Homo sapiens: one gene and its partner. The protein of the gene in region 2 purifies or fractionates together with the protein of the main gene of each other region. This does not show direct contact. Each region holds a gene or a part of one and is shown on either strand. Other genes may lie near its edges.

The links. Proteins that work in one complex are often made in the same cells at the same time.
Region 1: the proteins of ARID4A (region 2) and FRYL purify together in Homo sapiens (affinity purification with mass spectrometry; one large-scale study listed by BioGRID and IntAct). This does not show direct contact.

The regions. Positions count from the first base shown.
Region 1 is NC_000004.12:48,500,780-48,504,279, forward strand, and holds part of FRYL (protein furry homolog-like), read right to left. Parts: intron 2,067-3,500; coding exon 2,049-2,066; intron 955-2,048; coding exon 844-954; intron 1-843. UniProt on the Homo sapiens protein: Plays a key role in maintaining the integrity of polarized cell extensions during morphogenesis, regulates the actin cytoskeleton and plays a key role in patterning sensory neuron dendritic fields by promoting avoidance between homologous dendrites as well as by limiting dendritic branching.
Region 2 is NC_000014.9:58,305,055-58,308,554, reverse strand, and holds part of ARID4A (AT-rich interactive domain-containing protein 4A), read right to left. Parts: intron 2,534-3,500; coding exon 2,443-2,533; intron 1-2,442.

The DNA of each region.
Region 1 (3,500 bases), on a different chromosome or scaffold from region 2:
ACTAATAAAACTGTAACAATGTGGGCTGGGCACGGTGGCTTATGCCTGTAATCCCAGCACTTTGGCAGGCCAAGGCAGTGGGTCACCTGAGGTCAGGAGTTTGAGACCAGCCTGGCCAACATGGTGAAACCCCGTCTCTACTAAAAATACAAAAAGGTTAGCTGGGTGTGGTGGTGCACACTGGTAGTCCCAGCTGCTTGGGAGGCTGAGGCAGGAGAACTGCTTGAACCCAGGAGGTGGAAGTTGCAGTGAGTTGAGATCATGCCATTGCACCGCAGCCTGGGCAAAAGAAGGAGACTCTGCCTCAAAAAAAAAAAAAAAAAAAAAAAGCTATAGAAATACGAACAACATGTTGAGGGAGGGGGGTTGATGATACAGTTTTATGTCTTTATTGAACTGATGTGCTTTGTTTGACTATTTTGATTTTCTGAGACAGGGTCTTGCTCTGTCACCTATGCTGGAGTGCAGTGCTGCAATCACAGCTCACTACAGCTTCTAACTCCTGGGCTCAAGTCATCATCCCAGCTCAGACTCTCGAGTAACTAGGACTATAGGTATGTGCCACCATCCCTGGCTTTTACTTGACTTTTGATTATAGATGATCTGTGTCTACTATGGAAACCTTTAAGGTCTTGAACCTTTTACAACTGCTGGATATCTGCTGTCTTATTTACTCATAGGTCCTGACATAGCACATCATTAAAAAACAAATTATTCCTTAACTAAAAGAAAAAAGACTCACTCTAAGTGACTTTTGACTTAAGCTATTTTAACAAGTAATAGATTTTATTTTAAAATTTTTTTAGAATCAGTTACTGATGCCTAATACAACTGAATATTTACCTCTGCTTCATTTTTTATCGTATTTACTTGGTTGATAAGTTTACAGTAGGCCTGGAACAGAAGCAGCAATTGAAAATGCAATTTGTATAATCTTCGGCAGAGCTCCAATTCCTAGAAATAAATAACATTACATTAAATTTAGGTGTTATTTTCTAGACAGCATATTTCCAATGGAAATTTATAGTTAAAATTGTCTTGTCGTTTATTTTTCTGCAGTAAGGAAGTTAATATGGTATGAAGCTGATGAAAGGCACGTGAAATATGCTTTAAAGACTAAGATTAAAATAAAAACAAATATCACTGCTGGTTACATAATTCAGTTTTAATGTTAAGCACATTTTCACATTCTACAAATAGACTGTTTCAGCAGGCAATTAATAGGATACTTTAAAAAGGATTCATTAGAATTTAAAACTTTAAATTCATAATTAAAATAATCTACAAATGCAAAGACTTTTGCCCTCATTGAGATGTAGATCTCACTGCATTTATCAACAAATGCTTGATAAAGCAAAGTGAAACCGGATAACCTCTTACCTAAAAAGTAAGAAAAGCTGTCTTTTAAAGTGAGGTCATTTTTCTAAAGAAAACCACTTGGTAATCTCATTGAAATGAAACTATGAAATTAACAACGTGGGCCGAGCACGGTGGCTCACACCTGTAATCCTAGCACTTTGGGAGGCCGAGGTGGGCAGATCACTTGAGCTCAGGAGTTTGAAACCAGCCTGGCCAATGTGGTGAAACCCCGTCTCTACTAAAAATACAAAAAATAATTAGCTGGGCATGGTGGTGGGTGTATGTAATCCCAGCTACTGGGGAAGCTGAGGCAGGAGAATCGCTTGAACCTGGGAGGCAGAGGTTGCAGTGAGCCGAGATCATGCCACTGCCCTCCAAGCCTGGGCAACAGAGCAAGACTCCATCTCAAAAAAAAAAAAAAAAGTTGTGCACTTTGATTTTTTAAATTAAGAAATTTAAGAGGAGATATGTTTAAGAAAAAGGTGACTGCTAATTTTATGTATTTTAACATCTCACTATTTTAAAAGAACCAACATTTCATGGATTAGGGCTTTGCAAAACTGAAGCACATACTACTTGTAAAGTAGTCCACGAGAAAACATTGCTGGGTCACAAATGGACAAATGGCAGATGAAAACCAGTTTGTCTGGCAAGGGTGAGTAGTCTATAAATCAAGACAGGTCACTTACTGCTAGTATTTCCATTTGCTAAGCAAGAAGGTGATCAGGTCACAAAAAATACAAAGGAAGAAAAAGACCAAGAATTAGTGTAAGAAATCATTTTAACTAGGGTCACAGATGTTCCAGGTAAACTGAAGAACATATATTTATACCCCAAAGAAAATTATACAAAGTTATTTCCAGAATAAAACTTTTTAGACATTTACTGCAACGATTCAGGGTGTTTTTAAACACTTTGCCAAATAATAAATTACATTTAGGCTATGACTTATTTCTGTGTAAAAGCTACAATGAATAAAACTGAACTATTGTGATCTTGGTAAATCTGGCTATCCAGGTTTAAAAAAAAAAAAACCAAAACCCAACTGTAATAAAACTTCCATTTGTAAACTGGAAAACTTATGATTAGAAAATAAGAAACAAATTAATTACTGTTACTTCTCAGAAAAGAATTGGCTTATAATCGTACATAATAAATACTTATCCATCACCATCAAAAGATTATCTCTAGGGTGGCTCATTCCAGGCTTCCTATCCTTTACTGTCTAATTAGGTCCTACTTTGCCATAACTGGTGCTGAGCCACAGGGTGGAATATCAAAAGCAGATGCATGTTCTAAATTGCATTCCAAATATACTTCAGTAAGTTTCAGAAACTTAACCCGACTAGGTTTGAATCAACATAATGTATGTAAAACACAGAGTAAAAATTTATGAACCATCTTAAAAACTATATGAAAACATGTACAGCAACTTGGATCTGGTCTCTTACGAGGAGAATGACTTCTAACTAAAACAACAATTGTTACACCGTAAATGTATCTTCTAAAAGTCATTCTTAAGCCTGCTTTTCTAAATAGTTTCCTGTGAAGGACTGTTTTTCATAAAGTTTATTCCTATCAATTTAGAAGGGATTTGCTAAATAAGCAAAGGTGAACTTTAGCTCCATGCTGCTTACCATAAATTATGTGGATGCTCATCCAATAAACATCAGTTGAGCACAATCCAAGGTCAAGCATATTCCATATCTAAATTTCTGAGGGTTTAGTTCATACAGTTTATTTCATATGGAAATTAACAATTTGAATTTTAAATACCTTTCCTCACTTCTATTAGCACAAATAAAGTAGAACTGATTCTACAAGCATATATGTATAGCCTCTACTTTGGGATGTAATGGAACATAAACTGCTGATAAAGTTTATGATCGTAGGAAATAACACAAATGTAATGAATTTTACAGCTCTGAATTACCAGCAATTACTCTAAATATGCTAAAACAGTGCAGTTTTTGTGGATGAGTGTGTGTGTGTGTATATATATGCACATTTTAAAGTATATTAAAATTTGCACATTCTTTTATTCATCTAACAAATATTTGACTGCTTATTATGCAAAAGACAAGACTGGTACACAAGGACAGATCAAATTGCATAAAAAGCGTCTTCCACCCTCAAAACAG
Region 2 (3,500 bases):
ATCTTGAGTTTTCTGAATGGAACAGTGCCTTTCAAAATCTTTTTATGAATTTCCTTCATGCACGTAAGTGCAAAAATCTTTAATATTTTGAATTTTTCTCCCAAATAAATCTGTTTTTCCCTGTTTTTATAAGTGTGAACTACCTGCATCAGAATCACTGACATGCTTATTAAAACATTCTTGTACTGCCATCCCCAGGCCTACTAATTGGAGAGGCTTGGGGTCCTCAAATCCTCATTTTTCTAAGCAAGCACCAAGTGATTCTTATGTCCACTAATGCTTGATACCTCAATTATATGCAATTAAGATTCTAAAGCTCTTTGAGAACAAGAATTATACAATTTCTTCTGTAATTATCCAACACAGAAAATCACCATAGAGAATGCTTAGCAGTGACTAGTTTTTAGAAACACTAAAACGCTACTCATGTAGAGGACAAAGGTTGCTATTCATAATTGAATAACTACTCTGGGATAAAGAAACCCAAAATGAGAAAACCTGAAAAGTAATCCTTCTATAGAGCATGCGCATTTTATCAGTAAAGCTTCAAAGTGAGTACAACCTTTATAGTGAGTTAAAATATAAGGTGCAATATAAATATCTGAATATGCATCATATATTTTCCGGTGATTCTACACACACCTGTAATTTTTATCAGGTCTTAGTTTGATAAAGCAAAGATGTATTTACTTAATCTCTAAGAGTTAACATTAAGCTTAGTTTTTATTTGTTTTGAGACGCAGTTTTGCTCTTGTTGCCCAGGCTGGAGTGCAATGGCACAATCTAGGCTTACTGCAACCTCCGCCTCCCAGATTCAAGCGATTCTCCTGCCTCAGCCTACTGAGTAGCTGGGATTACAGACGCCCACCACCACACCCAGCTAATTTTTGTATTTTTAGTAGAGACAAGGTTTCGCCATGTTGGCCAGGCTGGTCTTGAACTCTTGACCTCAGGTGATCCGCCCACCTCGCCCCCCTAAAGTGCTGGGATTACAGGTTAGAGCCACTGCATCTGGCCACTTAGTTTTTAAAATTTAACAACTATCAGTAGCCACAACTAAGCTTCCTAAAAATATGTAGTTCAGAATAATAGCACCACTGTGAACCAACACTAAATTCTAGTAAGTCCAAGAAGCATCAAAGAGGTTTGAAAAAAGTACTTACACACAGCAAATTGGTACTACTAATAGAAGGTACAGGGTAAGACAGAGAAATTTTTAACCAAAGCATAGTTCTTCACAACACTGAGCATCAACTGGATGTGAATGATTTTTACCCAAAGCAACAAATCAAGTAAACTAAAAGTAAACCTAAATGGTCATTCTTTTATTTCTACAAGAAAACCACAAAATAATTATACCACTTAAACCAAGAAATAAGTATAAAAACCAACAATGCTATAGATTGGATGTTATCCACAGGATTGTGCAGTTTGAAAGTACTGAGAGGAGATTTGGAAATGTTACTTAATGCTATTCTCATCAACATAATGACAGCAACTATTTAAGTACTACTTTAAGGTTTTAACTTACAAGTATTATGACACTTGTTGCTTCTCACTATTAATACAATAAAGTTATCTAAAGCCAGTATAAGCTTATGCATGGAATGTTAAGAATGCATTCATGCATTCATATTAGGAGCATCTATATTTTTCTTAAAAGCTGTTTTCTTTTTGAGACCAAATCTCACTCTGTCGCCCAGGCTGGAGTGCAGTGGCATGATCTGGGCTCATTGCAACCTCCGCCTCCCAGGTTCAAGCGATTCTCCTGCCTCAGCCTCCAGAGTAGCTGGGATTACAGGCATGCACCACTAATACCAGGCTAATTTGTGTATTTTCAGTAGAGACGGGGTTTCACCATGTTGGCCAGGCTGGTCTCGAACTTCTGACCTCAAGTGATCCACCCGCCTCAGCTTTCCAAAATGCTAGGATTACAGGCATGAGCCAACATGCCCGACCTTGAAAGCTGTTAATATGAGCACCCACACTGTATCAAAAATCAAAAACTAAGTTAACAATCACCTATTCTTGAATCTACCATGGTCAGGATTTTTTAAATCTGTAAATTGTCTGGCAACATCTACATTACCCTTGTATAAAATATGTAGCAATACAGTAACGATCGCAACTATGCAATTTTAATTGTAATTATAGAAAAAGTGATCACAATCATGTGATCTAACTTTCTTGAAAAGAAACATCAAAGTAACCTAAAATAGAAGTACATTTTTGGATGAAATAGACAAAAGTGGCCAACTTACTGTAAGAGATAATTATTTTTGTTACCTACAGGGCATTCTTAGAATTTTAGTCAGCTATATCCAGTAAACTGACAGGAAATAATATATATTTCTCCACCAACACAATGATTCAGTGTATCCACAAAACACAGATACATGCAACCTCCAAATCAAATCTGTGTTAAATTACTTAATTACTTACCCACGGTATACCAACTAGCATCTGTCAACTTGCTGATAATAGCTTCCTGAAAAGATCCATCAGATGTCCTTGTTTCAACAATAGCTCCAACCTAAAATGTGAAATCCCAATTTCCTTACCAAATTTAAACAAATAAACCAAATCACTCCCACCAACTATATAATCTAGCTAAGAAAAATAAACACCATACTTATGATAATTCTATCTTACACTGTCTGAGATCTTTATCATTCATAGTACTTATCTATTTATTATGCAATTTGAGCTCCAAAACACTTTGACAAAAGTTAGGTAGCTATTATTACCCCTACTTTACACACTGAAAATTGCCGTTCAGAAAGAGAAAATAATATGCAGAGTCCAGCATGACAGCCCAGTCTCTTAAATCTTACTTTAGAGCTTTTCCACTATATCACATTGCCTTCAAGAAAATTAAATCGAAGAACTGTAAAATTATAAGACAACCAAAATAGCATCCATTTTCTTTCACAGAAATAGTGAATATTGGATTCAGCATTTGTATTTAAGGTACCTTTTAGATAAAGGTTCACCTGGAGAGATAGGGATGGACCAGTTGACCTTCTTTCAGTTTCCAGACCTTTGTATATCAGATATTAACCAAAGTGGTACTCTGATATAACAGATTTATTACATAAACAAATGGCCAGAAATGCATGGAAAACATAATCTAGGTATTCATTAAATTGAATTAGGAAGTGAACATAGTTTACTTGGTAAATTAGAACAACCAAAGATTGATGGTTATGATACTCAACTTAGAAGGCTAAACATCACCTCAGATACAGCAACAATGTGAAAAACAAAGCCAGGTATCCAGTTCAAGAATTCAAAACAGAAAGGTAGGTGAAAAACTTAACATGTTTATATATATTAAATTACCCTTCTAGAAGATGTTTAGTATCTAAAACAGAATACAGCCATTGCAATATCACAATTTATACTAATTATATTTAAACCCTTCATATGTATTGTTTTCTGATTAACGTTCTCATAAAATGTTAAGTCTATGTAGAAATGTAAATTCAGTAAATATGGTA